Linked DNA regions of Homo sapiens: region 1 is linked to region 2. The links come from fine-mapping of genetic effects on gene expression. A gene starts in region 2. The other region holds a variant in brackets. All regions are shown on one strand. Distances are from middle to middle.

Region 1 (14,955 bases), 88 kb before region 2:
CCCCTCCCCTACCCAGTTCTGTAGTAGGTTTGGAAACCAACAGCACCAAATTTTGGTGAAAATCAGTAGCCTGGCAGTCACTGGAGGAGGTAGAATGGATTTGGAGCACCTTAAAATCCTCAGACCCAGAGAACTGTCATTATTTGATTTATCCAGTGGTTGATACTACTCACAAGGCTATCTTTATTTGACCTGGCTCAAAGCCCAATCAGTGTGAACTTTTTCTCTGAGATTGGCAAAAGCAATCAGAGGCAATTGTTGAACATCACGGCTGTGAGAAGTGTTGCATAACAGTTGGGGCAAACAATAGGCTAACCAAAAAGTTTAAAAGGAGAACTGGGGAATGGGATGTCCAATGGGGGCTTTAAAACACTTTGAAATATTCCTGGGAATCTATAGAGAACTGTGTGCATGATGTGTAAGGCTCTGTGCCTGTCCAGGGCTGTTTATGTGTCCAAGAAAGACTTGAGAAGGCCCTGAGCTCTCACCTCTGGTAACCTTGAGTCTCTGAACAAGCAGTCAGTGACAGCTAAGGTAGAGTTGTAAACTGCCTGGTTGAATGTTGAAGGCATACCCCAATACATACACAGAGCCTGTTGGGAAATACTGGGAGTCTTACTGGTTCCAGACATGTAAGAAAATCTCTTTCCAGTCAGTAGGTGTCTACTAAGCTAACTGAGCACAGACTTTAGTGGCCACACACAACAAAGAAAACAGACTTTACATAATTAGTTCAGAAAAGTTATTAAACAACAATAACGACAACAATTATAACAACAAACAGCAACAACAACAAACCCATGGAAGGGAGGCGAACCTGATTTCCATGGCTGCCATATAATACTATTTAAGATATCCAGTTTTCAGCAAAAACTAGTAAGACATGGCTGGGTGCAGTGGCTCACGCCTGTAATCCCAGCACTTTGGGAGGCTGAGGCGGGTGAATCACAAAGTCAGGAGTTCGAGACCAGCCTGGCCAACATGGGGAAACCCCATTTCTACTAAAAATACAAAAAATTAGCTGGGCATAGTGGCGGGCGCCTGTAATCCCAGCTACTCGGGAGGCTGGGGCAGGAGAATTGCTTGAGCCCAGGAGGTGGAGGTTGCAGTGAGCCAAGATCTCGCCACTGCATTCCAGCCTGGGCAACAGAGTGAGACTCTGTAAAAAAACAAAAACAAAAACAAAAAACCCCAAAAATCTAGTAAGACATACAAAGAAAAAAGAAAGCCTGGCCCATACACAGGGGGAAAAGTAGTCAATAGAAACCATTCCTGAGGAAACCTTGATGCTGTATTTAAGAGACAAAGACTTTAAATCAGTTATGTTAAATATGATCAAAGAATATGATCAAAGAACGATACAAAACCATTTCTAAAGAACTGAAAGTATCAAAATGATGTCTCACCAAATAAAGAATATTAGCAAAAAGAAATAAATAAAATAACCAAATAGAAATTCTGGAGTTGAAATCTACAATAACTGAAATAATAAATTTTCTGGAGGTGCTCAACATATCTGAGATGACAGAAGAAAGAACCAGCCTGGCCAACATAGTGAAACCCATCTCTACTAAAAATACACAAATTAGCTAGGTGTGGTGGCACATGCCGGTAATCCCAGCTACTCGACAGGCTGAGGCAGGAGAATCGCTGGAACCTGGGAGGTGGAGGCTGCAGTGAGCTGAGATCATGCCACTGCACTCTAGCCTGGGTGACAGAGTGAGACACCATCTCGAAAAAAAAAAAAAAGAATCAATGAACTTGAAAATAGATCAGTTGAGATTATCCAGTCTGAGGAACAGAAAGAAAAAAGAATGAGGTAAAATAACACAGCCTATGGGACAACAGCAAATGTATCAACACATGCCTAATGGGAATCTGAGGAGGAGAGGAAAGACAGAAAGGGTCAGAAAGAATATTTGAATAAATAATGGCTATTTTTAATCAGATTTCATCCCCAAATATGATGAAAAAATATTAATTTACACAGGAAGCTCAACAAATTCCATGCAGGATAAACTCAAAGAGATCTAGTCCTAGACATATCATAGCAAATTGAAAAAAAAAACAGCCATAGTCAAAGAGAGAATCCAGAAAGAGAGAAACAAATAATCATATACAAGAAAGCCTCAGAAAGATTAACAGTCAATTGTTTTTTCATATAAACCATGGAGGCCAAATGGCAGTGGGATGACATATTTGAAAGATTGAAAGAGAAAGACTATCAACCAAAAATTCTAAATCCAGCAAAACTGTTCTTCAAGAATGAAGGAGAAATTAAGTCATTCCCAGATAAAAACCAAGAGAAGTAATCACTAGCAGACCTACTCTGTAAGAAATGCTAGAGGGAGCTCTTTAGGTTAAAACGAAAGGACACTAGACAGTAACTTGAATCTACATGAAGAAATAAAGAGCACTAGTAAAGGTAACTACATGGGTTAACATGAAAGCTAGTATCAATGTAGTCTTTGTAGCTCTTTTTTCTCCTGTCTTATTCAGTTGGCATAAAATGTATAAAGATGTAATTTGTGTGGCAGAAACAACCTGAAGGAGAGTGGAGGGAATGGAGTTGTACAGGGACAAGGTTTTTGTATACTATTATAATTAAGTTGGTATTAATTCAAAGTAGTTTGTTATATTAATTATAATCTCCAGGGCAATCACTGAGAAAATAACTAAAACAAAATATAGTTAGAGAAATGACGTGGGAACTAAAATTATGTACTAAAATATTTAACCCAAAAGAAAGCAGTAATAGAGGAATAAAATAACAAAAATACATAAGACATATAGAAAACAGCAGACATAAATGTTAACTTATTGGTAATTAAATGTAAATGAATCAAACACTCCATATAAAAAGCACAGATTGACAGAATGGATAAACACTATGCTTCAGCTATATGCTTTTCCAAAGAAGCACACTATATTTTATTTCATTTATTTATTTAGAGAGAAGGTCTCAGTCTGTCACCCAGGGTGGAATGCAGTGGTACAAACATGGTTCACTGCAGCCTCAACCTTTTCAGTTCAAGCAATCCTCCACCTTTGTCGCCTCCCAAGTAGCTGGAACTACAGGCATGTGCCACCACACTCAGTTAATTTTTAAAGTTTTTGTAGAGATGGGTCTTGCCATGTTGCCCAGGCTGATATCAAACTCCTGGGCTCAAGCAATCTTCCTGCCTCAGCCTCCCAAAGTGCTGGTATTACCAGCATGAGCCACCACACCCAGCCAAAAAATGCACACTTCAGATTTTTAAGGTAATAGTAGATTGAAAGTAAAAGGATGGGAAACACATTAAGACAAAAATTGTTAGAGACAAATAGGATTATTTTGTAATTGTAAAAGGGTCATTTCATCAAGAAAATGTAATAAGTAAAAACATATATGCACCTAACAACACAGCCTTAAAACATACGAAGCAAAAACAGAATTTAAGGGAGAGATAATGGACAATCCAATAATAATAGCTGGAAATTCAATGCTTTACTTTCAGTAATAGAAACAATTAGAAGGTCAACAAGAAAATAGTAGACTTGAACAACTCTAAAAGTTCTATCCAATGCAATCGACTCCTTTTCCTGAGCCTTGAATTTATCAAGGCTCAAGTTCAAGATTTATTGTCTTCTACAATCCTAATTCCTTCTTCTTCTAAATATTTTTTGGACTTATTATTTGTCATTATTTTTAAGTCTTACTGATTAGGTGTTTTAAGTTCAGTGTCAAAGCATATTTGAAAGTGGTTCCTTATTGTCTGCATTAGGGATCAGCAAACTTTTTCTGCAGAGGGCCAGGCAATAAATATTTTAGTCTTTCTAGACAATACATTCCTTATCACAACAAGTAAATTCTGTCTTTTTCTGTGAAAAACAGTCATAGATAATAAATAAATGAATGAGCATGAATATGTTCCAATAAAACTTTATTTAACAAAATCAAGTGTGGTCCGGATTTAGCTTGTGGACTACAGTTTGATGACCCCTGGTCTACACCAAAGGAAAAAGATTCTGGCTTAGATAGCCATTATACAGGCTGTTTACTGCATAAAAGGCACCTGACTAAGGGGGTGACTGCTGGCTGAAATCTATCCATATTCTGTTTGTCAAATGTGCCCCTTGGCATGGGCCTACCTCCGTCTGAAGGAGTGGGCACCTTTAAAAAATTTGCACAAGGTACTATATGGGCTAGTAATGGCCCTAAATTCACCACCACCTTTTGAGGTCACTTTTTTTTTTTTTTTTTTACTTCTGTAAGAAATCAATAATTAGAAAAGTTACTCCACTTTCCTAATTATTGATTTCTTATACCTATGTTACAATGACTTACATTCCCTGGTTGTTTTCTTCCTTATTTCATGAATATACTTATCTCAACTCTCCAAAAAAGCAGTACTGTGCTTAACTGAAAACATTAAAAGCACTCCCCACCCTGTAAATGCAGGAAAAATACAAAAATATATTTCATCACCAAATATTAATTAACTTGTTTTTCCCATGGAAGGTACTAATTAATCCTACAGAGAAAAAAAGAGATCTAAGAATTAAATAAAATATAACATTTTCATTGTTTACAAATGAGAAAATGACCTGGAAGATTCAAGAACTTTGGTTGAGTAAATATGATAAACAATACACTCATAGGGTGACTGTATTAGCCTGTTTTCTTTTTTTTGAGATGGAGTCTCACTCTGTCGCCCAGGCTGGAGTACAGTGGCGCGATCTCGGCTCACTGCAAGCTCCGCCTCCCGGGTTCACGCCATTCTCCTGCCTCAGCCTCCCGAGTAGCTGGGACCACAGGCGCCCGCCACCACGCCCGGCTAATTTTTTGTGTTTTTAGTAGAGACGGGGTTTCACCGTGTTAGCCAGGATGGTCTCGATCTCCTGACCTCGTGATCTGCCCGCCTCGGCCTCCCAAAGTGCTGGGATTACAGGCATGAGCCACTGTGCCCGGCCTTATTAGCCTGTTTTCATACTGCTATAAAGAACTACCCAAGACTGAGTAATTTATAAAGGAAAGAGATTTAATTGACTCACTGTTCAGCATGGCTGGTGAGGCCTCAGGAAACTTACAGGTGGAAGGTGAAGGGGAAGCAAGGCACCTTCTTCACAAAGTGGCGGGAAGGAGAAGTGCCGAGCAAAGTGGGAAGAGCCCCTTATAAAACCATCAGATCTTGTGAGAACTCACTCACTATCACAAGAACGGCACGGGGGGAACTGCCTCCATGAACCAATTACCTCCACTTGGCCCCGCCCTTGAAATGTGGGGATTATGGGGATTACAATTCAAGATGAAATGTGGATGGGGGCACAAAGCCTAACTATATCAGTGACTGAATACAAAATTTATATATAGAAAATAAATAACATTTACATAGAAAAACAAAAACTAGTTAGAAAGTATGATGAAAGAGCTATCCTAATTTATCATAACAAAAAGAGAAATGCAGAGGAATACATTTAATAAGAAATGTGCATGAAATTTATGAAGAAAACTTAAAAATATTGAGAGACATAAATGAAAAAATGATAAGGAATACAGTATTCTTGGATTGGAAAACTTAACAACATAGGTGTGCCAATTCTTTCTGGATTTTTTTTTTTTTTTTGAGACAGAGTCTCGCTCTTTTGCCCAGGCTGGAGTGCAGTGGCATGATCTTGGCTCACTGCAACCTCTGCCTCCTGGGTTCAAGCAATTCTCCTACCTCAGTCTCTCAAGTAGCTGGGATTACAGGCACACACCACCACAGCTGGCTTATTTTTGTATTTTTAGTAGACATGGGGTTTCACCATGCCGGCCAGGCTGGTCTCAAACTCCTGACCTCAGGTGATCTGCCCACCTCGGCCTCCCAAAGTATTGGGATTACAGGTGTGAGCCACCATGCTCGGCCTTCTTTCTGAATTCTAATAAAAATGATCACAGATTATTTTTGTTGTTGTTTTGGTGCTAGGGAGCCTGCCTCTGTGGAAAATCAAATGAAGAAAGAAAAGACTTCTTTTTCTGGTCTTGACTAAGGGACTTGTATTGGTCCAGCTCTCCAGAGAAAAACAACTGTAAATGCTGAGCAAAATTTACAAAACTGTAGTTTAAGACATGGGAGAGTGACAGGCAGACTAAAGGGACTTGATGCTTGAGAGAAGGGAAGCATGTGAGGTGAGCTCCACATTCCTCCAGGGTTTCTCCCTGAGAGTATTTTCCAATTTGTGACCCAGAAGCAGAGTCCAAGCAGAAAGTGGAAATCTTACAATGTGGAGAAGATGCAGGTCAGAGTTAATTACTGCCACAGTCTTTGGGACTTGAGGGGCAGAATCCCAGAGAAGAACAAATTGCAGATAAATAAGCCAAACTCTGTGTACAAATTGCCCTCAAATGATTGACCAATTCTTCAATTGCTTCAGGAAGCCCAGAAGAAAATGACACCAGAGAGGCTGAAGAGCAGAGCAGAGATTTCACAGTGGCTGTAGCAGTACTACTGGAGAAAAAGAATAAGCAAAGACGGAAGAATTGGGAAAAGAGAGAATGGGTTTTAAGCCCTGCCAAGGTGGAGGGTGGTGGAGGCCAAAAGAATGAGGGTCGTGATCAACTCAGTATACGACTGGAGGCTATATGAGTAAACAGCAAGCTGTTCTCATGAATGCAGGATGTTGGCAAGCTGACAACTATGTCGGCACCCAGAAGGAATGCTGAGGGCAGTCACGCCCCAGGCACAGTGTTTCTTGTGGTTAGGCACATCTGAGGCCTGTTAGCAATGATGTGAACCCGTGATCAATCAAACAGCTGACCAATCGTTACCTCCTCCTCCCTGCTCTTTCTACCCAATAAATACGAAGGGCTGTAGAAGCTCAGGGCTGCAGAAGCTCAGGGCTGCCTTTGCTCACTAGAAGCAAGGAGTCCCCTGACCCGTTCTTTAAAACAAATCCTTTTTTTCTTTGTCTTCATTTCTGTGTTCGTCCTACTTCGTTCAGTCCCGTAGTAACTGTCACAGGAGGGAATTGGTAAACACTGTAGGCTTTCAGTTGAGACCCCTAAAAGACTGTGCTCAATAGTAAGGATCACATTGTAGGAGTAAGGTCAGTGTCTTGGAAATAGGGCAAAACTGAAATAAATCAGCCCTGAGAAAGCCCAAAGCTAGCAATAGCAAACTATTTTCCAAAGATGGCCACAATACTATGACTCCTGTCTTACATGTGCTTCTAGAATCTTGTCATTGCCTCATCAAAAGATAAGTCTATATTTCTTTCTCTTGAACCTGGGTATCCCTTTGTGATTGCTTCAATAGAGTATGGCAGGAGTAAGTAAAGATGCCATGTATATCCACTGCATTCTCTTGGGATGCTTGCTCCTGAAACTCAGCCACCATACTATGAGGAAGCCCAAGCAGCTTGTGAGAAGGAAGTGAGGCCTCCAGTGCCAGCTGGCCAGTCATGTGAGTGACCATCTTGAAAGTGGGCCCTCCAGCCTCCAGCTGAGCTGACCCAGATGATGTTGAGTAGAGAGGAAAAGAATGATTCCTGCTAAGTCCTACCCAAATTGCAGATTCATTAATAAAATATTATTTTTCAGTTTTGGGGGTTGTTTCTTATGTAATAATAGATAGCTAAAACATCAAGTCTTGACAGGATTAAGTGATCTCCTAGTATTCCATTTGCCCTTCAGGAAAAAAAACCCATCCCTTTGGGGAAAGATAACATTATTCACAGCCTCTATAATTTTTCATCCACATGTCTGACATCTAGTAAAAATTACATGCCATGATAAAAGTAGGGCTGAGGATAAACAAGAGGAAAACAAATGACAACAAAAATACACCCAGGTGGTTCAGATATTGGAATATCAGACTGGGATTTTAAAAGTAATTATAACCACTATGTTCAAGAAAATAGAAAGCTGGAGAATTTCACCGGAGAGTTGGAATTTATAAATAACAGTCCAAAGGGAATACAACCACTTTGGAGAGCAATTCTGTAAGATCTAAAAAGATTGAAGAAACACATGCTGATGACCCACAATTCTGCTTCTAGATGTCTACCTTAGAGCAACTCTCAGAATTGTGCAAGGAGATATATACAAAATGTTGGCTGGAGCGCAGTTTGCAATAGCCGAAAAGTGGAAACAGCCTAACTATCCCTATGCAGAGGAATGGATAAACTGTGGCTTATTCATGAGATGGAACATAGTAGAGCCTTCAAACATGTGCTCATGTATCCGCATGGATAAATCCCCCAACATAATGTTGTTTGAGGAAAAGCATGTAATGTGAGTCATTCATGAAAAGGTTTAAAACTCCGGAAACAGTACTATACACACATGTGATTAAAAAGTACAAAATATGCATGGAAATAATTAAATCTAGTCTGTATAATAGTTACCTTTGGGGAGGGAGGAAGAAAGAAGGATTGAGTGGGGCTTGAAGTGCATCTGTAATGTTTTATTTCTATTACGAAGAAAGATAAACCTGAAGTAAATATTGCAAAATGTTAACATCTGTTGAATCTTGTGATCGTGTACATGGTTGTCTGTACTCATTTGTATGCTGGGAATATTTCATAATTTTTAAAAAAGCATGCCAAAATAAGATTTTTTTAAATAAAGAAAAAATGCTAACATTTTTACTAGCACATTTTTTGATGGCAACAATTCCAATCCAAGACTCTGGCTTCCTGCCTTTCTTCCCTAGTTCTTTCCTTGAGCATTTACTGTTTGCCTGCTATGCTCTAGGCATTAGGCTGGCACCGGGGATACAGAGATTTTCGAACTTGTTCTCTAATGGTTGTTGAGGGGGACAGTGATGAAGGAACCAGCTTGTTCCAGTGTATAAGCTGCTCCATCGAGTAGTGCTGTGGGCCCAGCCAGGATCAGGCCGAATCACCGTTCAGCTTCCTGATAGGCTCAGAGCCCACAGGACTTTGATATTTCTAGTGAGCATTTTAGTGGGAGTTGTTGCAGATACTGTCAGGGCTCACCCAAATTTTCAGTGTGCTCCAAAAGACTTGCACTTGCTGGTGCCCTCATCTCTGTTACCAGAAGCTTCCCTTCCCTCTTGGACCCCTCACTCACACCCCTTGAAGCCATTTTACCCATGAATGACGCTGGGAGCTGGTCTATAAATGCCT[C/T]GGATCCTTTGCCCTTAGGGAGGGCTGAGTCTGAGGCACACTGCCTCCCAGAATTCTCACAGTGATAACCATGCATTTTCCTTTCCCTTCCTTGTCTCAAGTCCTCACCCCCTCCCTAATAAAATACTTACACTTGAATCCTTGTCATGGATTCTGCTTCTGGGGAGTGCAGACTAAGAAGGCAAGATGAAAAGGACCTGCCAAGGAAGTCTCAAATTCAAGGAGAAGTTTCCGTGGGGTGGAGCCATGGGTCCTGGCTAACTTACAACATCAGCAGGATGGCTGGGATGATCAGGCCTGGATTGGCGAGGAAAGCAAAGATCTTGCCCAGGAAGGTTGGGAAATCGTTTTCAATGGTCTCTTGGAGGACATCGTACATTCTGTTTTTCCCACTGGAAAAAGGAGAGGACACAATATAACATGCTGCCATGTGCCTGTGGCATTCACAGCTGTGTCCATGGCCCCCCTACCCAGGTCCAGGGCTGCTGCCTGCCACTGCTTTCCTGGAAGAACCAGAGCTCTGCTCCAAATGAACTGCAAGTAAAAAATTCCCCCTGAGGGGCTGCCATTCTGGCTAGGGTGACAGCTGGGTCGGCACACGGCTCACCGGCTTTCTATCCTAAGTAACTTACAACCTCTTAGCCTTCACTGGTCTTTTGTGTCTGACACCTTCCTCAGCCAGAAAAAAATGGTTTTCCTCATGTATTCTAACTGGAGAAATTGTCTGTGTTTGTAGCTACCAGGCCAACATGGAGCTTCCTTTGGGCCTGGGAAACAGTTCTGCAGAAGCTGATGTGCTGGACAACCTGAGTGTCTCTCAGAAATACCTAGAATTAACCTTCAGATTTTAAGTCTAGGAGATATTGGATCACCTAGGACAGGCTCCTGGACAGTTCACAACTGTAATTTTTATTTTCTTCAAATACCTAAGAACCATTATGCAGATTTACTTCTACAAATGCTGGCCCAGAGACTCCTGGATGCTGCTGGCTCTTGGTTGATAATTTTGGTGCCAAGAGGTGGAATACGGGGTTTGAAATTCCTGGTTTAAATCCTTGATCCCCCATTTATCACTGGTGAGACACGTGGACAATTATTCTCTCTCTCTCTGTCTTTTTTTTTTTTTTGATGGAGTCTCACTCTGACACCCAGGCTTGAGTGCAGTGGCACAATTTCAGCTCACTGCAACCTCCACCCCCGGATTCAAGCAATTCTCCTGCCTCAGCCTTTCAAGTAACTGGGATTACAGGTGAGCGCCACCACGCCTGCCTAATTTTTTGTATTTTTAGTAGAGATGGTGTTTCACCATGTTGGCCAGGCTGCTCTCAAACTTCTGACCTCAAATGATCCGCCCACCTCAGCCTCCCAAAGTGCTGGGATTACAGGCGTGAACCACTGTGCCCGGCCTGACAATTATTCTCTTTCTGCTTGTATTCATATCATGCCCTGGTTCTCCCCACGAAAGCTGTGCTGTCTGATGTGGCTATTAAAAATAAAAATTAAGATGAAGTCAAATTTGAAATTCAGTTTCTTAGTTACACATTTCAAGTGCTTAATAGTCATATGATTAGTAGCTGCTGTGTTAGAAATGCAGATATGGAATGTTTTCATCATTACAGTAAGTTCTATTGGATGTTCAATATCTGCAGAAGTTCAATACCTTTGGGCAAGGTATTGAAAATTTCTCTGCCCCAGTTTCCCCATCTGTATAATGTAGTATAATAATACTATAGTATAATATGGTATTTTAAGTATAATAATTGTATTTATCTCAGAAGATTGTTTAGAGGATATAGATGAGAATTGATATAAAACATTGAGTGTAGTGCTGTTAAGTTATAAGCGCCCTTCAAAATTTTGCAGCTAAACATTTTCTGTGTAAAGTATAGATGAGGAGTTCACCGACAATGGCTCATGGACAAATTCAGCTTGTTACCTGTTTTCTTTTTCTTTCTTTTCTTTTCTTTCTTTCTTTTTTTTTTGAGACAGAGTCTCTCTCTGTCGTCCAGGCTGGAGTGCAGTGGTGCAATCTCAGCTCACTGCAACCTCTGCCTCTGGGTTTCAAGCAATTCTCCTGTCTCAGCCTCCAGAGTTTACACACAATGCCTGGTGGATTACAGGCAGGCACCACTACGCCCGGCTAATTTTTGTATTTTTAGTAGAGACGGGGTTTCGCCATGTTGGCCAGGCTGGTCTTGAACTCCTGACCTCAGGTGATCCACCTGCTTTGGCCTCCCAAAGTACTGGGATTACAGGTGTGAGCCACTGCGCCTAGTCTGTCACCTGTTTTCATATGGTCTGTGAGCTAAGAATCATTTTTACATTTTTAAGTAGTTGAAAGCAAGTCAAAACAGGAATACTATTTTGTGACATGTAAAAATTGAAGTATAAAATTAAAATTTTAGTGTCTGTAAATAAAGTATTATTGGAACACAGCCATGCTCACTCATTTTTTGTGCTATAATGACAGGGAAGAGCAGTTGTGTCAGAGACCATTTGTGGCCATCTCATTGCTTACAACTGTTGCCCAGCACACCACAAATTGCAATGACGCAGTTATAGCATGATGGCATTTCAAGTGCCAGGCACATCACTGTATGACAATGTTTCATTTATTATTATTATTATTTTTATTTCCAGTGCATACCCGCCATGTACAAATGAGAAAAGTTAAGTTTACGTGTTAGGCTTTTATGTGACAGTTGAATGTAGATTATTTTGTCGTTGAATTAGATGGTGTATCAGATTCTAGTGCCTGCTGTTTGTCACGCTGGTGGCTTAAAACAATACAAATTTAATATCTTACAGTTCTGGAGGCCAGAAGTCTGAAAGGGATTCACTGGGTTGAAACTAACCTGGGGCAGGCATAGGATAACAGTTATAAACTTTCCAATACCAAAAAGGAGAAAATGGAAGGAAGAAAGAATCACCAACCTCAAGCAATTTTGAAATCCAATCAGCCAAGCTCCATTAGGGGTTTTATTTTTTATTTTTTGAGACAGAGTCTTGCTCGTTGCCCAGTCTGGAGTGCAGTGGCATGATTTCGGCTCACTGCAACCTCTGCCTCCCGGGTTCAAGTGATTCTCCTGCCTCAGCCTTGCGAGTAGCTGGAATTATAGGCACTTGCCACCACGCCTGGCTAGTTTTTGTATTTTTAGTAGAGATGGGGTTTCTCCATGTTCAAAACCAACAGCACAGAATCTTTAAATCTCTGCCTGCTTCTATGGTCACATCACCTTCTATTTTTCTGTAGTCAAATCTCCCTCCCTCTCCTTCCTTTTTTTTTTTTTTTGTTGTTGTTGAGATGGAGTCTCACCCTGTTGCCCAGTCTGGAGTGTAGTGGCATGATCTTGGCTCACTGCAACCTCCACCTCCCGGGTTCAAGCGATTCTCCTGCCTCAGCCTCCCGAGTAGCTGGGATTACAGGCACGCACCACCACACCTGGCTAATTTTTTGTATCTTTAGTAGAAACGGGGTTTCACCATGTTGGCCAGGCTGGTCTTGAACTCCTGATCTCGTGATCTGCCCGCCTCAGCCTCCCAAAGTTGTGGGATTACAGGCGTGAGCCACTGCACCCGGCCTCCCTCCTTCTTATAAGAACACTTGTGACTTAGGGCCCACCTGGCTAATCCATGATGATATCCCCATCTCAAGATTCTAGGAACTAGAAAATGAGTTATTTACTCTCAAAAATAAAATGGTGGGACAGGCATAGGATAAAAGTTGTAAACACTCCATTACCAAAAGGGAGAAAATGGAAGGAAGAAAGGAATCACCAGTTCCAAGCAATTTTGAAATCCAATCAGCCAAGCTCCATTAAGTTTTAAAGTCCTGAGAATAATCCTCTGGGCTGCAGACTCTGCCCTACTGTGCCCATAGCTTTGCCCTTGTGGGTTCACAGTTCTGCCCTTGGAAGAACACTTCCACCCTTCCTTCTTCTTGAAGGATAGCACATGTCTCAGCTGAGTAAATTTTATCAGTCTGTTTCCCGCCACAGAATTCTGGGAGGCCAATGATCTGCCTTTATTTTGTCTTCTTTCTGTTTCTTTCAGTCCAAGTTGGTAATGTTTCCGCTGATATAATATTGTCAAAAACTGTGTGAGTTTTTCATGTATGTCATGAGAATGTACTCTGTTAAAGAAGAGAGTCCCACATGATCTTTTCTGGATAATCCTATTTCTATTCCTGACTTCTGATGTGATGGTTGAGGCGATGCATTAGTCACACGATTAGTCAGAGTTTTCTGTGTGAATGATATTCAGACCTTTTGATCTTTCAGAAACACTAGCAAAAGGTTATCCAGACTCACTCTTGGCTTTCTTTTTACAGCACATTCTCATGACAGTGAATCTAGTTTTAGCATATTTTGCAATCTAGATAAGGCTGAGAATTTCCAGAATCATCAAATCCTGGTACTTTCTTGTTTATCAGTTACTTACTCAACATACCTCTTTCCTTGCACATTTTCTATAAGCAGCATGAAGAAACCAGGCTGTACCTTCAATACTTTGCTTGGGAATCTCTTCAGCTAAATACCCAAGTTCTGTTTTTTTCTTCTCTTCTCTTTTCTTTTTTTCTTTTTTGAAGCAGAGCCTTGCTATGTTGCCCAGGCTGGAGTGCAGTGGTGCAATCATGGCTTATTGCAACTTCCACCTCCTGGGATCAAGCAATCCTCCCACCTCAGCCTCCCAAGTAGCTGGGACTACAGGCACGTACCACCATGCCTGGCTAGCCAAGTTCCTTTCTTATAAGTTCAGTTTTCCATACAACTGTAGGAGATGGTTCTTATCATAGTATAATTGTCCCTGCTGACCTCCTACCCAGTGACAGATGGGAAGCTGAGAAAAAGGGGGCTGGCATTTGCACCCAGGGCCCAGCCCTCCAAACCTTGCTTAGGAAGAAGCCAACAGAGGCTTCTTCCATTCGGTTCTCCTTTCAGCCTGGCTAAATCTTAGGCCATCTGCACTTCAGCACATTCCTTCTGTTCTAGACTGATCCCCTCCTTCTGTGTGAACACTGTTTTCCAGATCACACCCTGCTGGAACACTCCTGCTAACATCCCTGGGCTCCAACCATCACAGGCCTTTATCTAGTAAAGTCCTTTATGAACTGAGAAAGACCGGATCAGCATTTCTCAAAGTGTGTTTGTGCGGGACATGAGTGACTTTATTTTACATGCTAATCTGCCTTGTAACTTCTAACTAACCCTGAGTCTGAGAGTGCCTCCCACATGACTAGCAGATGTATTACTCTTTATGTAGGAACTCTTATTCCTACATAAAGTTTCCTCCAAAACAACCCTTGATGCTGCTGCAGAAATCACAGGCTGTGATGTTCAGAGCCACCTATACATTCCTTCCAGAGCACGCATACTTTCCCCAAGATAGAAGCCCTGGGCCTGGGGGATTGAGGTGTGGAGATCTACCTGTCTCACGGCTGCTTGTGACCATGCATCTGACTGTAAGTTACCCCTAATAAATCACCCAAAGCCGACAAACTGCATTTGTCTCCTTCCTCCTTTGGATTCTAGGCTCTTTGGGCATTTAGGGGCTGTTTTGCATATACGACCCTTTTACGGGACAGGGTTTCTCCTCATTGGCAGGCAGGGTTGGGACTAGAGTGAGGCGGGTGAGGCCCTGAGTGCACAATTTAAGGAAGTAATGCCCTCAGGGTTGCTCATGTGCAGTGTAGGGCGTCACTCACCTGCCTCACCCTATTTCCAGCCCTGGATGAGTGATCCATGCAGAAAGGGTTCTGTGGTCAATAAGGACGGAGACACTAGCTTACAGGTGTTACCTCATTGCATGATTCTTCAGAGCCTTTAACAAAGGAGTGTGCATTGA
Region 2 (14,955 bases):
TCAAGACACTTCTTTTCATACTTTATGTATGTATGCATGCCTTTATGTATGTATGTATTTACTTATTTTTGAGACAGAATCTTGCTCTACCACCCAGAGTGAAGTGTAGTGGAGTCATCATAACTCATTGTAGTCTCAAACTCCTGAGCTCAAGTGATCCTCCCATATCAGCCTCATGTGTAGTTAGAACTACAGGTGTGTGCCACCATGCATGTCTAATTAAATTTTTTTTTTTTTTTTTTGGTAGAGACAGGGGTCTCATTATATTGCCCAGGCTGCTCTTGAACTCCTGGCCTCAAGTGATCCTCCTGCCTCTGCCTCTTGAATAGCTAGGACTACAAGTATGCGCCACCATGCCTGGCTAATTTTTAAATTTTTTTGTAGAGATGGAGTCTTGCAGTGTTGTCCAGACTGGCCTTGAACTCCTGGCCTCATGTGATCTTCCCACCTTGGCCTCCCAAAGTGCTGGGATTACAGGTGTGAACCACTGCACCCAGCCTTTGTTTCATAATTTACAAGAGATCTGATTAGTAGGGTAAATGTAGCATGCTGTGGTTGAGAGAACAGCAGATGATTTAGACAATGCCAGTAAGGCCATAAAACTCCCTTGTCAAGAGGTTTATGAGATTGGGTGGGTGGTGGTCCAGAACAGAACTGCCTTAGATAGGATATTGATCTCCCAAGGTGGGGAATGTGTGCTGTTTTAGTGGAAGAATGCTGTACTTATATTCCTGCAGACCTCTCTGAAATCTTTGATATTACTAAAAAGATCTAGGAAGTAAACAAAGAAATCAGAAATTGGGTAATTTGATGAGTAACCTCATATTTGGTTACATGGACTCTAGATTCGGGATGAGATCTACTTTCTTGTTTAGTCAGGGCACTCTTAGATCCTGGCTGAGAAGTAGATTATACAAACTCTGATGACAATCCTTCTCTTAGTATTTGTCTGTGTGCCAGCATTCAGATGTGGGATCTCCAGAGTTTTAAATGCTACTGCACTGCTGCCATCATTCAAATCATCCAGCAAGGGTTATCCACTAAAAAGAACTGGAAAATCTGGCTGGGTGCGTTGGCTCATGCCTGTAATCCCAGCACTTTGGGAAGCCAAGGCAGGCAGATCACTTGAGGTCAGGAGTTCGAGACCAGCCTAACCAACATGGTGAAACCCCGTCTCTACTAAAAATACAAAAAAAAAAAAAAAAAAATCAGCTAGGCATGGTGGCGAGCGCCTGTAGTCCCAGCTACTTGGGAGGCTGAGGCATGAGAATCGCTTGAACCCAGGAGGTGGAGGTTGCAGTGAGCCAAGATCATGCCATGCACTTCAGCCTGGGTGACAGAGCGAGACTCTGTCTCAAAAAAAAAAAAAAAAACTGACATGCAGGTTGAAACAGCTGCCACCAGAAACTGGATGTGAAACAACTGTTAACAGACAATTGATATGAAATGATGACCTCTCAAATACTGGTGAATATCTAGATTGACATACTGATGGCTTTTCCTTCAGCTTGGGCTGAAGAATGACCACAAGGAGAAATTGAGAACTCAAACCATCTTCCCTCATACTGAGTCTGGACACAGAGAGCCCAGCTATACCTTAGTGTCTGTATTAAGATGACTTTGTGCTACGCCTCTGCTTCATGAGCATGTCTTTATTTTTCTAGGCATCTCCTACCCAGGCAAATGTTGATTGTTCATTACAGGATTTTCCCAAAGACCTGTCAATTCTTCAATTTGGGCTCTAAGATTCTTTGAATGCCTCACCTCAAAATCCTGGCCATGCTGTTTATTGTGGACTATTATGTTGTGATTCTCACCCAGTCTCATTCCAGCTCTCACTTTGAAAGACCTGCCTTCAATCAAATTTCCAATTCTCAGTAAGTTCCGGCCTTCCTTCCCCTCTGTAAGATACTGCCAAAGCTTTGCCTGCTATAAGCAATAGATCGGTTTTGTCTTATCAACAGGTTGTGGGGTGTTAGGGAGCCAGCTTTGGACAATAACTTAGATAAATGTGTTTTGTTTTTATTTTATTTTATTTTTGAGACAGAGTCTCACTCTGTCACCCAGGCTGGAGTGCAGTGGTAAGATCTTGGCTCACTGCAGCCTCTACCTCCCAGGTTCAAGCAGTTCTCCTGCCTCAGCCTCCTGAGTAGCTGGGATTACAGGTGTATGCCACCTTGCCTGACTAATTTTTGTATTTTTAGTAGAGACAGGGTTTCACCATGTTGGCCAGGCTGGTCTCAAACTCCTGACCTCAAGTGATTCGCCCACCTTGGCCTCCCAAAGTGCTGGGATTACAGGTGTGTGCCACCATGCCTGGCCTTGTATTTTGTTTTAAAAAGAAAAACACAAAATACTAAATACTAAGTATATTACTAAATATAATATACTAAGTATAAAATACTAAAAATATAAAAATTAGCCAAGCGTGGTAGTGCTCGCCTGTAGTCCCAGCTACTCGGGAGGCTGAGACAGGAGAATTGCTTGAACCCGGGAGGCGGAGGTTGCAGTGAGCCAAGATGTGCCACTGACTCCAGCCTGGGTGACAGAGCGAGACTCTGTCAAAAAAAAAAAAAAATTGTGGACTAAAGAGAAAAGACTGTAAAAATATAGAAAGAAAAAGGGAGTGATAAATTATGGCTGGGATTGTTGGAAATGCTTCACAAAGAACTGATGTTTATGAAGGAGACTAGAAGACGCCATCCCAAAATATGCCACTTCGGCATAAAGATTATTTCAAGCTGAAGGCAATTAGATATATGTCGCTCCTCTGCCCTTTTGGACTAAAAGCAGGACATATATTTCCATTTGGAAGGGGTCTCCCTCTCCTATACTTGGAAGATAACTACTCCAGAGACAACTCTTAGCACCTGAGAAGACTCTTACCTGCTTAACAAACCTTACTGAATAACACTTATTTACCACACGTTTCCTAGTCACCTTCCATAACTTACCCAGAAGCCCCAAAACGCTTTTCCTTTGTCAAGCTTCTTCTCCACACTCTATCACCCTTTAAGATGATATATACCTCTAAGATAGTATATAAGCCCCAAATTCTAACCACCTCCTTGAGTCATCTTCTTTGTGAACTCTCATTTGTACATATGTAATTCAATCCTTTTTTCCCCTCTTGTTGATCTGTCTTTTGTCAGTTTGATTTACAGAGCCTGTAGTCACTGAACCTAGGAAGGTAGAGGAAAAAAATTCTCCTCTCCAACATTTACTCTGAAGTTTTTTTCAAATAAGAAAATTTTTTAATCAAACATGAGACTAATGGAAAGAACTCACATATCAATATGGGGGAGGACACAAAGACCGTTAAGCAAAACTTATGAACAGGTAAGTTACTAATGGGGAAATGCAATTAGGAAACGGCGGAAAATGCAGTTTTACTAGTTATCAAAGGAAATTTAAAATAAGTCAATAATGGGATTTCCTGTCTTGTTTATAGTATTACGTTTTTAAAATTTTTTATCCAGGACTAATGAGACTTGTTAAAATGCATATTTATTACTGGTCGCAATATAAATTGTAAAGCAACTCTTTATGCAGTTTGGCAACATGTAACAAGAGCTTTAAAATACTTTCTTTTTTCTTTTCTTTTTTTTCTTTCTTTCTTTTTTTTTTTTTGGTTTTGAGACAGAGTCTTGCTCTGTCGCCCAGTCTGGAGGGCAGTGGTGCAATCTGGGCTCACTGCAACCTCAACCTCCCAGATTCAAGAGATTCTTGTGCCTCAGCCTCCCGAGCAGCTGGGATTACAGGTGTGTGCCACCACACCTGCCTAATTATTGTATTTTTAGCAGAGAAGGGGTTTTGCCATGTTGGCCAGGCTGGTCTCAAACTCCTGACCTTAATTAATCCGCCTGCCTCGGCCTCCCAAAATGCTGGGATTACAGGCGTAAGCCACCATGCCCAGCCTAAAAATACTTTCTGATCTGTTAATTCCACCTGTAGGAGTCAACCCAAGCCCAAGAATCTTCAATGCAACATTATTTCTATTATAAAAATGGGAAATAACCTAAATATTCAGTAATAGAATAATGAATTAACCTGTGATTTATCTACTATGTGGAATATTTTACAGCTCAATTAAAAATAATTACCATGAAGTCTTTAATACATACTTAGGGGCTACTCTGAATCTTGAAGGATGAACAGGAGTTTGCAAGAGAAGAAGTGGGTAGAGAAATGGAGGGGGTGATTGTGGTAGCAAGTTAGGAGGATTCCAGGCAGAGGAAACAGGGGATTGAGGGGCCCCAGCAGAAATGCCAGGGAGTCTGGGGCATAGGCGTCCAAGGCAGAGCTGCGTCCCGGGTGTGTTCTGGTGTGGGAGGCAGGAGGAGAGGGGTACACGCCCACAGGGAGCTGGGTTGAAATCTGGAGGGTAAGGGTGTGATAATGGAGCATGTTTGCTGGGGCAAGGTCTACATCAAAGGGTCACACTAGCAACATGGAAGAAGGTGATGTGGGGAGGGTGACACTGCTCTGCAGCTGCTACAAGGAAGGTCTTGTGAGCATACTGGCTGTGATTGCTTCACTTATTTTAAAGGCAAAAAGAGGCACCAAACATGGGTCTGAAGCCATCATTAATAATCTCCATGTCTTTTTTTTTTTTTTTTTGAGAGTCCCTCTCTGCCGCCCAGGCTGGAGTGCAATGGCACCATCTAGGCTCACTGCAACCTCCGCCTCCCAGGTTCAAGCGATTCTCTCACCTCTGCCTCCCAAGTAGCTAGGACTACAGGCATGCACCACCAAGCCTGGCTAATTTTTGTATTTTTAGTAGAGACAGGGTTTCACCATGTTGACCAGGCTAGTCTTGAACTATTGACCTTAAGTGATCTCCCCACCTCAGCCTCCCAAAGTGCTGGGATTACAGTCATGAGCCACTGTGCCCGGCCATGTCCATGTCTTTGAGACTCGGTTTTAAATGCTGAGGTTTCTGCCAGGACTGATGAGATAACTGGCATAGGTGCATTGAAAAGTCTTGCGGCCAGGCACGGAGGCTCACACCTGTAATCCCAGCACTTTGGGAGGCTGAGGCGGGTGGATCACGAGGTATGAGTTTGAGACCAGCCTGGCCAAGATGGTGAAACCCGGTCTCTACTAAAAATACAAAAAATTAGCTGGGCGTGGTGGCAGGCACCTGTAATCCCAGCTACCTGGGAGGCTGAGGCAGGAGAATCACTTGAACTTGGGAGGCAGAGGTTGCAGTGAGCTGAGATCACATCACTGTACTCTAGCCTGGGCAACAGAGCAAGACTCCATCTCAAAAAAAAAAAAAAAAAAGAAAAGAAAAGAAAAGAATAGTCTTGTGTGCTATTTGCGGGAGTGAGCTAAGAGAACCTGTCCTGTATTTATCATAGAGCAGGTTTCCTTAGCCCACTCCTGCCCCAACCTCTTTCTTCTTCTCACTCCCTGTGGAAAAATAGTCTTTGATAAGACAACGTAAAGAAAGACTATTTTTGCATAATTTATCCAGGGTAGGAAGCTAGTCAGTGTTAGCCAGTGAGGTATGATTTGTCTTACAAATGCTCCAGCGCAATGCTCTGGAAGGCAGTAGCCCCCTGTTGCAAAAGGGACGGAGCAAAACAAATATTATCACAGCCATGACCCCTAAGAGAGCTCTAGGACTGAGTTCAGTGCTCAGAAAGGGCAGAGAAGCAGAGATCAAGGCAAGGGATCATGGAGAAGGGTTCCCTGGGGTCCCATAAAGATCAGCTCTATGTTGCTTGAAAGGACTGAATAGGAACGTCATTGTTTGCATCCTCTTCTGAGCTCTCTCTGTGTCCTCAGTCAGCTAATACAATGGTTTTCATTGTGGTAATGAACTGTACCAAGCATACTTCCCAGCACTGTAGATATAATTTGGTGTTACAATTTTTTTTCTGAGCTGTAATTCCTGCTGTAATTTAGTTCTCCAACTGAACGAAATTCACATGGAATGTGGAAAACAAGCCAGAATTTGCCCTTCAATCTTCCCCAGACCTCTTCAACACAGAAAATAAGCTGTTTTTTTCTCTTTCATAATCAGTTTTCAACAGACTCCACATAATGCATAATTTAGGAACTGGAAAGGCAGCTGTCTTGCTAGGAAGGCCTCCAAGCCCAGCACACGCTCTCCTAAATGTAACAGGCCTCCTCCTATGTAGCACCTGACTCGGTCAGAGAATTCACAGTGCAAAACACAGGCCGAGGAGAGGCTGCGGCAGCCCTCCAGTCCCGTGATCTCAACAGTTCAGTGCACTTACCAAATGATACAGGAGGAGGGAGAGTTCTCATCCTTCTTTTCAAGGAACACAGTAACAAACTGTAGCTATTCTGAGAAAAGAACATTGTATTCTTAAACTTTTATTCCCTCCTGGTAGAGTATAAAGGGAAGGATGAGAATATCAGGTCCCGTCGCAGGTGACTCCAGAGGAGATTTAAAATGGAAACCTTCATGGGGCTGGGTTTCAGTTAATTCAATATATTCCCAATGTTTAACTTTACTGCACCCCTTCACCACTTAGATCTGTGAAGTGAAAATTCTGACCAATTTCCTGTGTTCTATGGGAAAGGGAAAACGGCAGCGGCAACGTGGAATATTTCAGTAGGAAAGGGTTTGTGTTGTAGGCAAAATGGTCTTCCATTTCAGTCCTACTAAGGACTACTGCTCACAGGGGAGTCCCGCACAGCACAGCCCTGCAGCAGAGGCAGAGGGAGGCCAGGCTGGGTGCGGAAGGGACGGCATCTGGATGACTACGAGGGGAGTGGGGTGTGGAGAACCAGCCTGAGCATCCTACAGGCAGTGGTCACTACGGGAGCACCGTGGCCCGACCCCCGGGAGGAAGGTTTCTCGTCTGGCCACCCTGGGGCATAGAACTTTCTCACATTTGCTCCTTCATCTTTGGATTGAGATAAAGAGTGGATGAGGCAGGCAGGTGGGGTAGGAAGAAGGGACAGTGGCTGAGGCAAGTTCCGGGATAGGGGCCAGGAAGGGCTGTTGAGATGCCATGGCTGCACCCCCTGCCAGCCTCTGCCCAGCTCTTCCTTGCCTCCTGCTCCTGGGTCTCTCCCCTTGTAACACAGCGGCCTCACTGAAGCTCAGGCTCCCGACAACCAGACAGCAGCGGGTCACAGGAGCGGAAAGGGCAGATGAAGTGGCTCCTGGGGCCAGCTCCCTACTGGCCAGAGTGGGGCCAGGACAGGGCCCTCCCACAGGAGGGAGTGGAAAGGGCCCTCCCTCCCAGAATGGGGGAGGAAGGAGATCTCTTCCAACCCCCCAGAACCCCATCACTCCCCAAGATTCTGGTTTCTTGCCTACTAGTGTGGGGCGCAGGACCCAGCCCTGCCTGGGACGTGAAGGGGGAGAAAACAGCATCGCATCCATAATATTTTGTGACATGAAGATGCCCAGCCTGTGAGTGTGGCTTCTGCCCCTCTCCCCTGAACCCTCAGTCTCAACCAAGGGTTTTCTCTCCCGCCTATGGCTTCCTTGGGCTCTCCCACTTCTCCTGGAGCAAGTTGGCTCCCTCACCGGCTCACGGGAGAGCTGTGGTCACATTCCCAGTGGGAAGGTGATGGAGCACCCATTATGCCTACTACTTTTTGGAGGTTAAGAGTGTTCCTCCTAGAGTCCGGGGGCCTGGATGTGAATCTGGCCACACCACCCGCCAGAAGCCTGCACCGAGCTTCCCTGCCCTCTGTCTGGTGAATGTTCACTGCTTCCCAAGGCTCAGCTCAGAGTGTCACTAACCCTGGGAGTCTCCCCTGACACCGAGGGCTGAGCAGCACCTTCTCTGAGTGGTACTCTGCCCCCTCCCATGTTAAACACCTTGCCTCCCAGGAAGGCTCCATGCAGGGTGTTGAATGAGAGGGAAGGAGATGAAGGAGAATGTTGGATGGGTGGCTGGACTGTTGGGCTAAGCAGAGGGCACCCAGGCACTGCAGGCTCCCCAGAGACCCCACCACCCCATCTCACCTGTGTGTGGAGAGCCGCTCTTCACCCGCCCTTTCACTCCGCCTCGTGCTGTAAGAGACAGGATTGCTGACAAATGGCTGGCCTCTGGTGAGTCCCCCTCCCTGCAGACCCCCGGTCACTGTGGGACCCCTCAGCTGATTTGTGGCTGCCTCAAACTGGGACCCAGCTCCAATGATTTTACTCAGCAAATTATAGAGTCCCCTGCCTGTCACATTTGTCTGATACTGTCAGTCATGAGGTCAGAACATCCCCCACCCCCTGCCCTGCACAGAGACAGAGACAGATAGAAATCTGCTGAGGGGCTTGCTCGGAACAGGCAACCCTAACCGAGACAATAGGTGGCTGAGACGCCCCAGCAGGCTCTGAGGAGCATGCATCGGCCGTGACAGTCTCCAGTGCTGGCCTGAACACAGGTGCTGTGCACAGGTTGTCTTGAATCCTTCCAGTAGCCCTGCAAGGAGGTGATGACTACCCCCATCTCATGCGTGAGGATCAGAGAGGTTGAATAACCAGCCGAGGTCGCTCAGCGCACAGGGGACAGGCCCTGGACTCAAACCCAGCTCCTCCCTATGCCTCTGAACACCATATGTGCTTCCCCCATCCCCTGCTGCTGCCCAGGAACCCTGTGGGCGGGCCCCGCAGGATCAGGACGTGGACTCACCTTCCTCTTTCAGGCCCTTTACCTGGTGGCTCATGGTCAGCAGCACTGCTGGGGTCCTGCACAGGCTCACGCAGCGTGCTCCTGTATGCACGCCTTCAGCCTGGGCTGCTTTCCTGCCCTCATGGTGGCTGGCCTCCCTTCCTAGACCTGACAGCAGGCGGGGCTTCTTGGTTTGAGATTGAATGTGGAGGTGGGTGAAGTTTGGGGGAGAGAGACGGGTGAAGGAAGGCGACGAGTTCCCGGCCCATCAATCCGGCCACACACTCCTCTTCTCAGGTTTCCCTGCAAAGAGGCAGCATGGCCTCATGTTTCAGGCATCAGTTATACATGAGGGGCCCTGGAGGGGCCAGGAGCTGCAGGCTTATCTCCTGGCAATGATGCCGCTGGCACTCTAGCCAGAGGAGGTGTGAGGAGCATCCCAGGCCCTCTCCCACTATCTTGAGTCCCTGATTGGGACAAAGCACCAGGGAAATTCTAGAATGTTTGTTTAAGTTATTACTTGGGCTTCTGTTTAAAATGCAGATTCTGGCATGTGGTGGTTCACACCTGTAATCTCAGCACTTAGGAAGGCAGAGGCAGGAGGATTGCTTGAGCCCAAGAGCTCAAGACCAGCCTGTGCAACGTAGTGAGACCCCATCTCCACAAAAAGAAAAATAATAATAATAAATTTTTAAAAATAAAATGCATACTCCCAGGAGTGGCACTGGGCGTTGGAATCAGTCAGTCTGTGCCAGGCCCTGGGAGCCTGCACTGTGGATCCTGCTGCAGGCGTCCTGAGCCCACACAGATGAATGTTCCCGCTCAGCCCCCGCCCCCTCCCTCAGCAGCTTTTCCTCCCTGGCTTCAGGGAGGCACAGATTTGGCTGCTTTGAAAACCATCACTAAAGTGTCAGAGGGACCCTCTGGAAGGCAGTCATAAGGTCTCAGAGTGTGGAGTTCTTAATCTGGAGTCCCTGGAACCCCCAGAGCTGTGGATGGAATTCTGTGGGTTTGTGAATAGTGATGGAGAAAATACTACACTTTCACTTTTCCTAGCCTTAACTGCGATTTAGCATTTCCCTCAATCATGAATGTAAGCAAAGATGTGATTTTTGTCTCAGCAAAAGTCACAGTTATTTTTTTTCCCAATTAAACCACTGGGGATGTCTCAAAATATCTTACATGTTATCACAACTTCAAAATTATGATAGTTAGAGACCTGCCATGAAATCTTGTTATTTAATTAGGAAGCATATATTGTCATTATATGAAAGATATTTAAAGTGATTTTGATGCCTATTTCAGGATCATTGGTCTCCTTTGTAATCCTAGTGTTTTATTTTATGGATTTAATGTCTATGTTCTGAAAAGCGGTCTGTGGCTGGGCGTGGTGGTTCACGCCTGTAATCCCAGAATTTTGGGAGGCCAAGGCAGACGGATCACCTAGGGTTGGGAGTTCCGGACCAGTCTGGCCAACATGGTGAAACCCCATCTCTACTAAAAATGCAAAAATTAGCCGGGCGTGGTGGGATGTGTCTGTAGTCCCAGCTACTCAGGAGGCTGAGGCAGAATTGCTTGACCCAGGAGGTGGAGGTTGCAGTGAGCTGAGATTGCACCACTGCACTCCCTGGGTGATAGAGTGAGACTCTGTCTCAAAAATAAAAAAAAATATAAAAAGGGGTCTACGGACCTTACCAGGATGCCAAAGGATTCTATGACACAACAGAATAAAAAGCCTTCCCCAGGGCAAGTCTCCTGTGGGTGTCAAGGACAGACCTAGCCTCTGATCATGCCCATGTACTTTCTCAGGGGTCAGGAGTAGGAGTGCCTGTCCTCATGCAAGCTTGGCGAGGGAAGGGGCAAAGGAGCTACCTCTAAAATGCACGTGCAACGGTTCATCTCAAGCTTTGAAGCTTTTCTCTTTGTCCCACACCTTGATCTCCGACCCAACTGGTTCCTGCAGGGCCGCCCCAGTCCCCGGGGCATGAGGGCAGTGGGAGGATCTCAGTTGCATTCTCTGGCATCCATACTGCAGGACTGCAGCCGCAAATCCCTCTCCCCACCAGGGCCATGCCAGTGCAGGACCCCGGTCCATGTGAGAAGCAGCACGGGCAGCTGTGCAGCCACAGGACAGCGTGGCCCAGAGGACTGGTGAGTAAGGTTTCTGCTGGGGGTGCCCCAAGCGCTCTCCCCTGATGAGTGAGGACCCCCAGCAGCCCTTTACCCTGCTCTTTTTTTTTTTTTTTTTTTTTTTTGAGACAGCGTCTGGCTCTGTCGCCCAGGCTGGAGTGCAGTGGCGCGATCTCGGCTCACTGCAAGCTCCGCCTCCTGCCTTTACCCTGCTCTTGTTGTTCTCTGTTGCCAGAGGAGAAAGGCTTTCTACAACACCTTCATCTCCGGAGAGAAATTCCCTCCAGATAGGACTATCAAATTCCCTTGTACCTGACTGTCCACACAGTCGATAACTCCACTTTTCTCCTCACAGATAAAAATGAGCACCCACTGGGGTCAGAGTCAGTTCTCGGCTCTGGGGATTCATCAGCAAATGAAACAGAGACCCTTGTCCTCAGGGGCTGATGTGTTTTTGCTGTCTGGTGGCTGGGTTTAGCCCTTGGTGTCTGAAGGAGTGATCTAGGAATTGGCAGATTTCTTCTCTCTCACAACAAACCCTGCTTTCCACAATTATTTCTAAGGAATTCAAAAATCCAAGTTTGGAAGTCAGATACTGAACACAGAGTATTTTGCTTTTTTCTTTGCACGCCACCTAGATCAATTCCAATGCTTCCTGAGATGAATACACATTCAGGCAAGAGGGAGCAGGTCTCACATCAGAGAGTGTGAGAAAGAAAACGACAGTGATGTCTTAAAACTATTATCCTCGTGGCATGTGTGTTGCACACTGCTCTGTGCTAGGTCCTGCCTGGGGCACTCTTGCCCCAACCTCTCTATTTCTCACAACAGCCCGGTGAGACAGTGTTGTCACTCCCATGTGTCAGATGAAGAAAATGAAAAAACGCGGAGCCCTTGTGTCTCCTGGGCAGGTCTGTGACAAGAGATCAATTGAGTCTGGGTCTGGAAGCTGGGATATGTGGCTTTGACTTGGGCTGACCATTAAATCCCCAAGTGCCTTCTTGTGAAGGTCACTTCTGGGCTGTGGTTTCCTTGTTGTTCAGGGTTAGATTCCGTAGTGGACACTGCCAGTGATCTGCCCAGATTCCCTCTCAGAGCAAGTGCACCCATCCTCCAGGGCTAAGGCACATAGCGGACCCCTTCAACGGAGGAGAATTGCCTTTGGCCGAGCAGGGGCTGCTGAACCCTGAGGTAATCCCATCACCATCCCCGGATTAGCCTACAGCCACAGATGGATGAACAAAGAGGTATGACAGCCCGGCCTCTGTCAAAAATGGGAACAACTTATTGATGTCATTCACATCCCAGAGCTTCCTGTGAGATGAGCCAGAAGCTGGACTCCAGTGGGGTCTCTGCTCATCCCCTTCTCCTGCCCTGTCCTGCTTCTTGCCTCTTCTCCTGAGAGCACCCTCCACCCCCGCCTGCCCCGTCTCAGGCTCTGCTGTTAGGGAACCAGGCCTAATGTTGCCTTTTCTAGAAAGGCAGCTGCTCGTCCTCCTGCATAGGCTGGGGAGGGAACTGAGGGAGCTAGGCTGGTAGGGATGAAGGGCATGGGGAGGTGGGAGCAGGGATGCTGATGCTCACTTAGACCAAGGGGGAGACAAGGTCCAAGAGGAGAGTGGGACAGGCCTGAGCACCCCTAGGCTGGCCCATCTGCTTGGACATAGAATCCAAGGTGTATCTCTGAACCAAATGCAAGGATTCTATAACATGTCTGTCCTTCTAGCCTCCAATGACTATTAGGATTCGACTGCCTTTTCCCCAGTCTTCACTCACCCCCCGCCCGAGGGTTAATATTAAAAGCAGCAGAGCGGCCTACATAATTTGCAGGGCCCAGTGGAAAATGAAAATGTGGGGTCCCTTGTCCAAAAAGCAAGAAAAATGAACAGTTAAAGATACTAAAATACAAAGCCTTTCTCTTTCTACTATTTAACGTCATTCTGAGAAAACTCAAAATTTTAAATTATTTGCATGGATCCCACTGTTCATCTGTATATCGAGCAATAACAGGTTTCAGTGCAAGTATAAGAGTACTTAACTCCTATGTGGAATCACTGAAATGACACAATTTGTATTTTGTAGCTTGTATATGTGCAGGATTTCAGGCTTATCAGGACTGTAGAAATGCTGCACAAAGCCAACTCAATGGTTTTACTTCACGTCTTGGTATGTGCATATTCTACCAATGTTTCCTGCCTTTGGCTTACTGATGAGTGAAAAAGAACTGGGAAAAAAAAGGAATTATGGGTTTCTCTATCTTTTCCTTTTCTTCTGGGTCATTATTGTCAGCCTACGTGGTTGGCTAATCCAGGGAAGTAACTTGAATGAAAAAGAATAGGATAGGGTCCCTTAGTTGTCATGCTTCTTAGAACACCACTGCCTTCTTTTAGTGTTTGAAGCAAGTTCTGGATTAAATGGGAAGTGTAGCCCCTCTGGGCTGGAAGCATTCCTACATATTTAACCACAGATATTACACCCCTGCCTTGTACTGGCTTTGAGTCTTGCTAAACTCCCATGCGTCGTGGGCCCACTGGAATTATGTGCTCATGGGGCATCATATATGGGATACGCAAATAGGGCGGCATATGTTCCTATCTCCTCTGCTCATGTACGCACCCCATTGTCCCATCAGACTTCCCCCCCTCCTCCTTCTCCTTCTCTCCTCCTCCTCCTTCTCCTTCTTCCTTCTTCCTTCTTCTTCTTCACAGGCTCAGGCTATAATGCAATGGCATGAACATGGTTCACAGCAGCCTCAACATCCTGGACTCAAATCATCCTCCTGCTTCAGCCTCCCAAGTAGCTGGGGCCGGAAAAAAGCACCACTATGCCCAGCTAATTTTTTTTTTTTGTTGTTGTTTTTGAAACAGAGTTTTGCTCTGTCACCCAGACTGGAGTGCAGTGGCGTGATCCTGGCTCACTGCAACCTCTGCCTCCCAGGTTCAAGTGATTCTCTTGCCTCAGCCTCCTAAGTAGCTAGGATTACAGGAGTGTGCCACCATGCCTGGCTAATTTTGTATTTTTAATAGAGATGGGGTTTCACCATGTTGATCAGGCTGGTCTCAAACTCCTGACCTCAAGTGATCCATCCACCTTGGCCTCCCAAAGTGATAGGATTACAGGTGTGAGCCACTAAGCCCAGCCTTAATTTTTAATTTTTTAAAATTATTTTTTATTTTTGAGATAGAGTCTCACTCTGTCACCCAGGCTGGAATTCAGTGGCATGATCTCGGCTCACTGCAACTTCTGCCTCCCGGGTTCAAGCAATTCTCTTGCCTCAGCCTCCCAGGTAGCTGGGATTACAGGCGTGTGCCACCATGCCTGGCTAATTTTTGTATTTTTAGTAGAGATGGGGTTTCACCATGTTGGCCAGGCTAGTCTCGAACTCCTGGCCTCTAATGATCTGCCCACGTCGGCTTCCCAAAGTGATGTGATTACAGGCGTGAGCCACCACACCTGGCCCAATTAACTTTTTTTTTTTAGAGATGGGTCTCACCGTGTTGCCCAGGCTGATCGTGAACTCTTTAGCTTATGCAGTACTCCTGCCTCAGCCTCCCAAAGTGTTGGGATGACAGGCGTGAACCACCATGTCCAGCCCAAAAGATAAAATTCTTAAGAATTTCACTATAGGCTGGACGCGGTGGCTCACGCCTCTCATCCCAGCACTTTGGGAGGCCGAGGCAGGTGGATCACTAAAGGTCAAGAGTTCGAGACCAGCCTGGCCAAGATGGTGAAACCCCATCTCTACTAAAAATACAAAAATTAGCCGGGTGGATGTGCCTGTAATCCTAGCTACTCGGGAGGCTGAGGCAGGAGAATCCCTTGAACCCGGGAGATGGAGGTTGCAGTAAGCCAAGATCACGCCATTGCACTCCAGCCTGGGCGACAGAGCGAAACTCCGTCTCAAAAAAAAAAAAAGAATTTCACTTTCACTTTTTCAGCACAGTATTAGACCAAGTGCAGGGCGCTTCTGAGTGTGGAGCCATGAGCAGCCACGCGCAGGCTGCACACTCAGGAAGCCCACCCTTCAAGACAGCCACAGCTGAGAGTTACCTGTCACTGCCTTTCTGCCAGGAACTTGCCAACCCCTTTAAATGACTTATTGAATCATCACAACAGCCATTTGAGGCAGATTGTCTTATCTTTCTTTACAGATGAAAAAATGGAGGCTTAGATGTGATGTGTCCCAGCAGTCCCTGGAGACAGGATTCAGCCCTGTTGACTGTTC

The links.
Region 1: its variant is fine-mapped to the expression of TMC2 in lung (TOPMed, PIP above 0.99). The same link has a PIP of 0.9 or more in breast, sun-exposed skin, unexposed skin and visceral fat.

The regions. Positions count from the first base shown.
Region 1 is chr20:2,618,819-2,633,773 of GRCh38, reverse strand. TMC2 (transmembrane channel like 2) reads right to left here. Exons shown (of 20, transcript NM_080751.3): 17 at 9,378-9,503. It overlaps LOC105372505 (a long non-coding RNA gene), which reads left to right. Exons shown (of 5, transcript XR_007067502.1): 3 at 14,475-14,572. Among named protein-coding and RNA genes, the nearest start is that of NOP56, 26 kb to the left of the region's middle. The variant C/T (reference allele first, on the strand shown) is at 9,112.
Region 2 is chr20:2,530,322-2,545,276 of GRCh38, reverse strand. It overlaps TMC2 (transmembrane channel like 2), which reads right to left and starts at 8,704. Exons shown (of 20, transcript NM_080751.3): 1 at 8,622-8,704; 2 at 7,961-8,008. The coding sequence starts at 8,655. It overlaps LOC105372504 (a long non-coding RNA gene), which reads left to right and starts at 1,665. Exons shown (of 3, transcript XR_937204.3): 1 at 1,665-1,877; 2 at 3,153-3,339; 3 at 10,667-10,749.